Regions from separate parts of the Homo sapiens genome. Here region 2 is linked to region 1. The links come from fine-mapping of genetic effects on gene expression. A gene starts in region 1. The other region holds a variant in brackets. All regions are shown on one strand. Distances are from middle to middle.

Region 1 (5,231 bases):
TTATTAAATGAGAAGTGTTGCTAACTTAGTTGCAATTTTGTATCAGGCGGGCGGTAATAGTTTGTTGGTATGACTTCCATACATGTTGCCATGTGAAGGATGTTTGGGGTGTTTCTTAAACATACAAGAATCAACAAGTCCCACCTACAGGAGATAACAAATCATTATGATGTACTGGACCATTATTCACTGGGGCTAAGAAGTAAATTATCCCCTTTTGAATAAAAGCACAGCAAAATCAAAATGACCTAGTACATATCTGAGAGCAGCAGAAGGCCAAGGGGAGCCCTAGAGAATCAGCTGCCCTTTGTCACCATGTTGCAGGGTAGGGGTATGGGGCAATGCAGCCTGCCCAGAGCAGATGGCTTTGAGGTTATACGGGAGACTGAGGAATGTACTTATTCACATAAAGCCTTTTAAAATAAGCTGAGCATTCATTGCTCTTGAGCTAAAACAGAGCATTCTTCCCCAAGGTGACTGCTTGCTTGCATTTAAATACAAAAGAAGTTTCTCTCCAGGCTTCCTGAGGCCGATGGTGAATGTTCAAAGATCAACGAAGCTAACATGAATCTAAAATGAATTATAAGGCTGACGGAGCGCTTGAACTATTCATTCAGCAGTTGTAAAACAAGTAGCACATTAAAGGACATGTATTTTAACATATCTTATGTGGTTTGTCCCCAGTTGGACTTGCAAAATGACATTTAATAAATATTTCTTGTAAGGGTACTTTCTAAAAGAAGAGAGTGAAAGTAATTCTGCTGTAGGCAGATTGGGCCTGAAATTTGGGTTGTCTGGATTTGCATAATCATCACCTTGAAAAGGTGTTGCTTTACCCCAATTATAGATCAGTGGAAGCTCTCTTGTGTAGCACACGGCCCTGGTGAGATCCCTTAAGATCTCTTGTGGACTATCTGTGGACATCTGGGTTGCAGTGAGGAAGGGCAAGGATAGATGGTATAGGGAGAGAGGGGCAGAATGTTGACTTGGGCAGGACAGGAAAAGCCACTTGTGACTGGTGAGGGAGCATTTCTTTGGGTTCAGAATCATCCTCATCTCAGTGTATCTCCCCATAAGTCTGAGATTACTGAGTGCAAGGTATACATATCAGCAGCTCCTGACTCAGGATGTGTGGCAGAGGGGACCATGAAGTTAACTGTGACTTTCGGAAGGGTGCAGTCTGTTACCCTTTCGGTGGCGAGGTCAGTTTCCGGGAGGCTCTGCAACACTGATATTTTCCAGATGTTTCTCCTCTTCTCCCTTCTCTGGCTGGCTATATCTTCCTCCCTTCATCCTGCTCTTTCAGTGAAATTGAGATAACATGTTAGAATCTTAGGCAGGTTAGAATCTCTCAGCAGTAGGATGTGATTTAATATCTAGACCTCTTACATTAATATTTATAATAGCCTTCACTGCTTGTGAATAGCATAAGCACTCTTTTCTGTTCAAAGTCAATACTGAAATAAAACCCAAGAGTATGTTTTATAAAAATTTACTTTTAATGGTGCAATGGTAATAATCTATGTAGTCCTTATGGTTTTCAAATCCCTTTGTGCTTATATTACCTTATTTAATACAGACATAAATCTGTGAAGTAAATAATACTATTTTTATCTTCATTTTACAAATGAGGAACTGGAGGCTCAGAGAGGTTAATTTGCATAAGGTCATACAAATGATAGATGGCAGAACTGGATTTAAGTTCAGACTCCTTAAATCCATGTCTTTTGTACGTTCTTTTCACTAAATTTGCCATAGTGTTTCTATTGGTTTTTGCCTATATAAAATCGGAAACGAAGAAAAAGAAACGAACTGGAAAATAAATTTGTCAAAAGAGTATATTTTTTTCTCATAATTTCCAAGCGGATCTTTCAGATATGTTATTTGAGGACTTTTTGCCTCAGACTGGCGATAAAACAAGTGTTCTACAAAATACCTCCGTAAGACAGGCCTATCAGTGGCAGCTCTTGTCCCCGCTTTGCAGAAGGGAAAACCAAGGCTCCACAGAGCTAAGGGGACTTCCTCTCAGCCAATTTGTAGGGGCCTGTGGGCCAGACCCGGGGGCAGAATTGAGATCTGTTGTGAAGGCTGTCCGGCTTCTTTATTCTATCAGCATTTCAAATCCTGAAAACCTCCCCTTTGGCATTTTGAAGGAATTCATCCCCAGTTTTTGCTGGTAGCCGGGAGGGAACCGTGCTCTCCCCCTGAGGAAGGCCCTTTGGAGTAACTGCAGCAATGAGTGCCCGGGCTGTGCTTGGAGTACCAGTGCTCGCCCGGGGCTATACTGAATGAGTAAGCAGCCCCGTCTGCTTTTGCTGTGCAAAGGTAAGGGTGGAGGCCGCTCCACTTTCTTCAAAAGGCCCCGCTCTGGGACTTGTGAAATTGTGCTCTCTTAAGCTGGTCCTTGCAACCCCATGGACGATATCCATGCGACTTTCCTACAAAAATAACATACCAAAGCCGCTTTAAAATCCGTAATTTTTGGGTTGCAAGACTCCAAGACAAAGTCAAATGGGCATCAAAAAATGTAATCCAAAAATACAGAGGCATTGGTTCTACCCTATATGCATTTGCTATTTATGTAAAACTACAGTGTGCTCTGAGATGAGACTTTTTTTTTCTTTTTATACCTTTTTTTCCGCCCGTCTGGTGCGTTTGCCGACGGTTCTTCTCGGCCCTGTGTCTCGGGAGAGTCGGCTGCCGTCTGGGCCTGTGCCCCACCTGCGTGCGCCCGGGCCGAGCCAGCCCCGCCAGGTCGCCTCCGCCCGGCTGCCGGCCCGAGCGCGCGGCTCCGGGGGCGGACTCCCGCCGCCCAGCTGACACGCGATTCGTCACTCTTGCAGAACTTTCCCCCTGAAAATCCCTGCACCAGAACCCGCTCTCCCGCCCCGGGGAGGTTTTGATTTTAGTGGCTTTCTTCCTTTTATTTTCCGTCGTGTGCGGATTTCGCTGCAGAGCGAACTTGCGGCTCGTCCGAGTACATGTGAGCGGTAATCGCCCCTGCAGCTGGTTATCCTGACATTATGCACTCCGAAGCAGAAGAATCCAAGGAAGGTAGGATTCTGGTTTCTCCTGGGGGCCGGCCAAGTTCTGCGGAGGAATTTGGAGGAAGGCAGTGGTAGAAGAGGATGGGAGTTTTAAAGTGAGCGGTGGGCACTTTGTCCGCTTGCCCTGCGCCTTCGAAGCCAAGTCGGAGCTGGATAAGCGGAGCCCGGGTCTCATCTTGGGCTCCCTTCTCCCCCCGCAGCCGTTCAGAGGGGAGGGGAGGAAAAGTCGGACCTAGTTCAGCCAGCCCACTAAGTCTGCTTTTTAGCTTTCTCTGGAAACGAAAGAGCCCCACTTGGACTCCAAGAATGCAAAATGTGCTTGGAAAAGGGCTGCCTGCCTGCATCAGAAAGACTGAAAGCGGGATCCCTGGAAGAGCCCTGAGTGGAGGGTCCCTTGAAAAGGGGTTTGAGAAATTAGAAACGCTATATGTTTCCGGCTAAAAGGGGAAGCTGAGTGAGGGGAAGCGAAAATCTGTATTTGAGAAATAGATTAATTTTTTTTCATTGCTGGGTTTTCAGCAGTGAGTTCATTTCGTTGGGGGTTTGAGGGGGCTGAAAGATATGAGGGGGTCCTTGTGCAGCTTGAAACTGAGAAGAGTTTGTCTGTTTCTAACTTCGCAAAAGCAAAGGGTTTCATTTACTCCTAACAGAGAACAGGTGACAGGGCTGGAAAAGCTCCAACCAAAACACAATTATACGCTGGTGTTAGTTTGGGGAGTTTATTTGTGTGTGAGTGTTTGTATGCTTTGTTCCTTGAAACTTTATGTATACAAAAGTTCTCTTGTAAGTGGGGGGTGGGAGTAAGGGTGGTTGGGGAAAATTAGAGAGTAAGAGAGGAGACTATTCAAGATTGTGAAATACTCTTTCTTTTCATGTAGTCTCTTGGAAAGCTGGTTAATTTCAAGTCAATCACAGCAGTTCTGGCAGAGGAGCAGCCCCATCATTTCTCCATTTGGTAGACACCAGTTAGGAAGAGCCCTTGAAACTTGTCCTCTTCTGCCTTTTACTGATTCCCCTCCCAGAGGAAAGCTTTGTGTTTCACCATGTAGTCTTTGTGGGCTCACGTTTACCTTATTATGCTGTGTGAGGGAAATAGTCAATAAAAAGGAGGTTTGTTTAATAGAAATACGGGGCTGGCATGAATGAAAAATGACAGCCAGGAGCATTGTTTTTGAGTTTGATGTGGAGTATGGGGGGAGTAATGCTTTCTTGCCGTGTCCTGTGTTCTGATGGAGCTGTGTGCTGATAGATGCTTTTCTTTTCTATGTCTTTATACCAGCAGTTTATTCAAAGTCAAAGGTAGTTGAAGGCAAATAGGAACCAGGCTGAGAGAACTCAAGGGTGAACTTCTGTGTGAATTACAAGTAGCACTTAAGCTGGCGTTTTCTCTCAGGTGTGTTTTCCCTGTCTTTTGAGAAAGAGAGAGTGGGAGAGAAAGTGGAAAAACAGTATCCCAAAGTGTGTATTATACATTCCCATAGCAACATCCACAGTCTTCCCTCCTCGAGGGCCCAGCTCTCTGGTTTTAAGTTTGGAAGCAGCCTGCAAACTGGCCTATGAAGAGGTTAATGGGGCCCCTTCTGCTTGTTCCTCACCTTCCCTCCACTTGTCATCATTTACATTCTGCAGATCGGCCACAAATGATATGGCGCTCTGCTTTTTAAAGAAAGCCCAGAATGTTTCTTTTAAAATAATCTGAGGTAGTAGAATTTTAAATTGATAGCAATTAGGGTGGGATACTGAATAACTCTTGAGGGAGATTGAACACTTTATTAATCAGATAGAATCATATAGCTTCTGCCAGGAAATGAAGGATAGGTGTCTGTGTGTTTTGGGTGTGTTTTCTCCAAGGCTGGTTCATTGGCTGTAATCTAGAACCTTCTGGTTAGCTACCACCACTCAGATGTCGATGAAGCGAGCTATGTTGTGTAAATAACTCAGTTATCTTCTCTATCGTTACTAGTCCTTTTCCTCTTATACGTAGCTTTTTTTTTTTTTTTCATCCTGGTGAACTTATGTATCCCATTTAGTGTGAGATCACCATGAGTTCTTAAGAATGTCTGTATTGCAAGAAAACTGCCTTTGGATGCTTCATGCCTGATACGCTGTAAGAGGAGATACTTTTAAGTCATTTTTCTCAACTGTAGTGAGAGACTAGTATACTTTGGGGTTGAATCTAAGTCC
Region 2 (5,231 bases), 38 kb after region 1:
TTTCAAATCTAATTTGGTTCTTCTTTTCCTCAATTTTATTTAATTTTAATTTTTTCTGAGACAGGGTCTCACTTTGTTGCCCAGGCTGGAGTGCAGTAGTGCAATCACTGCTCACTGCAGCCTCAACTTCCCAGGCTCAGATTATTCTCCCACCTCCAACTCCCTAGTAACTGGGACTACAGGTGCATGCCACCACACCTGGCTAATTTTTTTTTTTTTTTTGTAGTTTTTTGTTGCAATGGGGTTTTGCTATGTTGCCCAGGCTGGTGTCAAACTCCTGGGCTCAAGTGATCCTCTCCCTACCTGGGCCTGCCAATGTGCTGGGATTTCAAGTGTGAGCCACCACACCCCGCCTTTCCCCAATTTTAAATCCAACATGGCAGTTCTGGATTAAGGGAGTCACTCTTCCTATATGTCTTCCCAGTCTGGATTTTGAAGCAGCTGCCTTTTTGCTTCCTAATGATGCTAGCCTATCCAAACTAGAAATAATCTTATATAATCATTGATGCCTTGACTCATTTGTATGTATCTGTATTTTTAAACTTTTTATCTTTCATTACCAAATGACTGCTTTCTGATACCCAGGCCTAGGCTTAAACACTGGCATATATGGAGAGAACAGTTGCCACTCGACTCAGAGATTGAGTAGACACCCAAAGAACTGCAGTTCTTAAGCCTTAGGAGAAGCGAGAGAAATGGGCCAGGTGCGGTGGCTCATGCCTGTAATCCCAGCACTTTGGGAGGCTGAGATGGGCAGATCACCTGAGGCCAGGAGTTCGAGACCAGCCTGGCCAACATGGTGAAACCCCGTCTCTACTGAAAATACACAATTAGCCGGGCATGGTGGAGGGTGCCTATAATCCCAGCTACTCTGGAGACTGAGTTGTGAGAATCACTTGAACCCGGGAGGTGGAGGTTGCAGTGAGCCAAGATCACGCCATTGCACTCCAGCCTGGGCAAAAAGAGTGAAACTCCGTCTCAAAAAAAAAAAAAAAAAAAGATTGCTACATGCATGGAGTGGGGAAAATTGTGGTAGAAGAAAAGTAAACTTGGTTTGGAGAATAAACATTTATTGAGCATTTTCACTTGACCAGCTCTAAGGTGGGAAGATTACATATAGTGTCTGTTTAATATTTAATATGTATAGCCATTATTATGTATATTGTAAACATCTGTCAGAAGTTATAATTCCAAAAGTAAACTCTAAGCAACAGCTTTTTCAAAGTATATTTTTCATGTAGCACATTTCATTAGCTCATGAAAAGGTTATTTCCCCAAAATGTGTAAAAATGTAAAGTGAACAATGGCCATTCATCAGAAATAGCAAGTGACAATGAGCTCTCCAAGGAGCACTTCTTTTCAACACTCGACTTCTGGAGGCTGAAATTCAAGGTACTTAGGACAGCCAAATTGGTAGGCACTGGCCAATGTCTTGGGAAATTTGACTTTTTGCAACCGGATTATAAAACAAGGCTTTCCTTTTGATTTGCTTAATCTGCCATTTTACTCAATATTATGGCTTTGCCATTTGTTCTTCTTCCATTTAAATGAATTTCTTTTAAATCGCTTGTGGTTGCTGTTGCCCAGATGACAGGTATAGAGTTGATTTTGTATTTTTTTTTTTGTTTTGAGACAGAGTCTCGCTGTGTCACCCAGGCTGGAGTGCAGTGGAGCAATCTCAGCTCACTGCAGCCTCCGCCTCCTGGGTTCAAGCGATTCTTCTGCCTCAGCCTCCTGAGTAGCTGGGATTATAGGTGCCCACCACCACGCCCATGTAGGCCGGGCTGGTCTCAAACTCCTGATCTCAAGTGGTCTGCCCACCTCAGTCTCCCAAAGTGTTGGGATTACAGGTGTGAGCCACTCCACCCAGCCAAAAATTCTTTTCTGAACAGAGACTAATGTCGGTAGATGTAAGACAAACCACAAATGGTGGGAAAATGAGGAAAAAAAGTGCTCCCAAATACCTGTTTTTAGTTCGCTTCACTTGCTGATATTTACTAATTGTTAATTCTTTTCCTCTCTTTTTTTTTTTTTAGTGGCCACAGATGTCTTTAATTCCAAAAACCTGGCCGTTCAGGCACAAAAGAAGATCTTGGGTAAAATGGTGTCCAAATCCATCGCCACCACCTTAATAGACGACACAAGTAGTGAGGTGCTGGATGAGCTCTACAGAGTGACCAGGGAGTACACCCAAAACAAGAAGGAGGCAGAGAAGATCATCAAGAACCTCATCAAGACAGTCATCAAGCTGGCCATTCTTTATAGGAATAATCAGTTTAATCAAGATGAGCTAGCATTGATGGAGAAATTTAAGAAGAAAGTTCATCAGCTTGCTATGACCGTGGTCAGTTTCCATCAGGTGGATTATACCTTTGACCGGAATGTGTTATCCAGGCTGTTAAATGAATGCAGAGAGATGCTGCACCAAATCATTCAGCGCCACCTCACTGCCAAGTCACATGGACGGGTTAATAATGTGTTTGATCATTTTTCAGATTGTGAATTTTTGGCTGCCTTGTATAATCCTTTTGGGAATTTTAAACCCCACTTACAAAAACTATGTGATGGTATCAACAAAATGTTGGATGAAGAGAACATATGAGCACATGAGTTAAGATTGTGACTGATCATGATTTATTTGAAGATGGAGCACTGCTGATTTATGAAGGAAAAAAGAAGAATTTTCTAAAGATTACACATATTTCAGAAAGACTTTACCCAATTCAGTTGTCAGACATAATGATTTATTTGAAGGCTTGTTTTATTTGAAGAAAAGCATATTGCCAAAAATTCTGGTTAAAAGCTTCCTAA[C/T]GGGTAACAGACCATGGGAGAGATATGTGGTTGGGTAATGCAAATGTAGTTATACAAAGAAAAATACAGATGTCTCCAGACCTGAGGACTTTTTAATAGGGCAGTTGTTGTGTTGGTGGCACATTGGATATTTCTAACATGTACAAAGCTATGTATTTTGATTTACTTTCATTTCTTGCTATGTATATGTACTTTTCTTAAAATGCCAAGAACTTTCTCTTGCTATCATTGCTCCTTTTGAAACAATTCAATTTTCATGTCTACAGCTGACTGTTTTGTTAAGATTGAGTCATCGACATTCAGGATTTAAGTCTGAGGTAGTCAACCCTCAGGAAAAAAAAAATGGCTTATCTGAAATCAGTACTGTGGAAATGAACTATATTAGCTATTATGAATAATGTCCAGTATAAGAATATGCTTCTGGAATTGAGTTCTCCTTTTAAGTACCAATGATACTTAAATTTCTCAGAAATGTAATGGTGTGTCATTGCCTTGAAATGCTTGCTTAGGGCTTCTTTTATGTTATCTTAAAAAGTGCTGGTGAATTTTCCATTTTTTACATCCATTTCACATGTAAGAGACAAAAAAGTCTAGATTGGTCTTGATATTGAGATAATAAAAAGTAAGTAGCATTAAGAAAGGTAACAATCTTCATTCTACAGATGAACTCATTGAAACAATTTAGGGGAATGAGGGGCAAAAGGGGAGAAATACTGCTAAAGAACATGAGCATAAAAATGCGTGCGTTTCAGTGTTTAAGAAGGCTTGATAAAGAATGTCACTTTTTTATTTAACTGATAAGATTTTTGTTATTTTTTACTTTGATAAGTAAACCAAAGAATATTTGTATTTCAAGCAGTTTGTGTGGTGTTTCTATATAATTTTCTGTGTATAAATAATAAAGTAGGCATTTGTTTATTTTGTAAAAAAGAAATGAAAATCTGCTGGCCAGCTATGTCCTCTAGGAAATGACAGACCCAACCACCAGCAATAAACATTTCCATTGTCACTGTGTCTATGATTTTTTTTTTTTTTTTTTTGAGTCTCGCTCTGTTGTTTAGGCTAGAATGCAGTGGCATGATTTTGGCTCACTGCAACCTCTGCCTCCCAGGTTCAAGTGATTCTCCTGCCTCTGCCTCCCAAGTAGCTGGGATTACAGGCATGCACCACCACACCCAGCTAATTTTTGTATTTTTAGTCGAGATGGGGTTTCACCATGTTGCCCAGGCTGGTCTTGAACTCCTGACTTCAAATGATCTGCCTGCCTCGGCCTCCGAAAGTGTTGGGATTACAGGTGTGAGCCACTGTGCCTATGATTTAGTGTACTCTCTTGCCTTAAATTTGCCTGCCTCCCAGAATATTGACATTAAAATAATAGTTTACCAGGAAAGGTTCCACAACTAAAAATTCCAGAAGTTGAGATCTGCTCTAACCCATTTCAGCCTAGAGAGGGTGGTCAGTTTCTCTGACACCCTCATTTGCTTGGCTAAGACAAGCAGCAAAGGTGTAGAGTTTCTTCCTGTTTGATATTAAATCCTGACACTAAGATTTGAACTGAAAGTATCATTCTCACTTCCTAGAGCCAGTAGGTGATCAGTATATGCTGTAACAATAACACAGTGACTACAGAAATGACCCTTCTAGCTTCATAACTTGCTAAGTGGCTTATAAATGGAATTCAGCAGCCTTCCTTGACCAGCTGTTTTCCTCACATGTGAAGGCTGAGAATGTGATGGGGGGTGTGAGCTACTGACTGGATGTGTTCTGTTCTCCAGATCTCAAACAGCAGAGGTATGGGAAACGAAAGCCCTGGGCAGTCCATGGATGCTTCTTGCTCATCTGTAGCTATAGACAGGACCAACCAGAGAGAGAAAACGTACGGAGGGAGAAATCTGGATCTCTCTGGACACACTGGATCATAGGGTTGTGCCAGCAGGCTAGCAATCAAATGTGCATGGGATTGGGGGAGCAATGCTTCATCTCCCACAGAGGGAAGGCAGTGAGGAGTAGACCGAAGGAGGGAATCCTGTTTGCTACCATTTCTCAGCATTTTCTGGAGGGGACCCATCTCCTTACCAGTGCTGTGCCTGAAAAGCATGTCTTGGATCAGGTCCAAAGTCGTGATTAGCAAGTTCATTTCTAATACAATAGGACTCCCCTTGAGCATTTAGGGTGGCAAGGAGCGTGGGAGCTGGGAAGAATCCCCACGTGCTTAGGGTAGATAAATCTGAGCCGAGTTAATACTAATTTGGGGATCCTATGAACCTTTTTATAAAATAGTATCTGTTCACGTTTTGAAAAAAATTGTGTTGTAATTGATTTTATTTTGTGCTGGTGGCTTCTCTGCAAAAATTATGAGTGGATATGATAAGTGGATGATAATACTAATGGACAACTAACGCAGAGTAGTTTGTATTATG

Evidence for each region.
Region 2: its variant is fine-mapped to the expression of TNFAIP8 in whole blood (TOPMed, PIP 0.97).

The regions. Positions count from the first base shown.
Region 1 is chr5:119,353,068-119,358,298 of GRCh38, forward strand. It overlaps TNFAIP8 (TNF alpha induced protein 8), which reads left to right and starts at 2,952. Exons shown (of 2, transcript NM_014350.4): 1 at 2,952-3,054. The coding sequence starts at 3,024. LOC102723444 (a long non-coding RNA gene) reads right to left here and starts at 2,706. Exons shown (of 5, transcript XR_007058912.1): 1 at 2,631-2,706; 2 at 1,188-1,299. RefSeq lists an enhancer at 1,909-2,048 and silencers at 2,699-2,858, 3,487-3,781, 3,579-3,638.
Region 2 is chr5:119,390,780-119,396,010 of GRCh38, forward strand. It overlaps TNFAIP8 (TNF alpha induced protein 8), which reads left to right. Exons shown (of 2, transcript NM_014350.4): 2 at 2,037-5,231. The coding sequence ends at 2,602. Among named protein-coding and RNA genes, the nearest start is that of TNFAIP8, 37 kb to the left of the region's middle. RefSeq lists a silencer at 287-444 and an enhancer at 4,258-4,307. The variant C/T (reference allele first, on the strand shown) is at 2,812.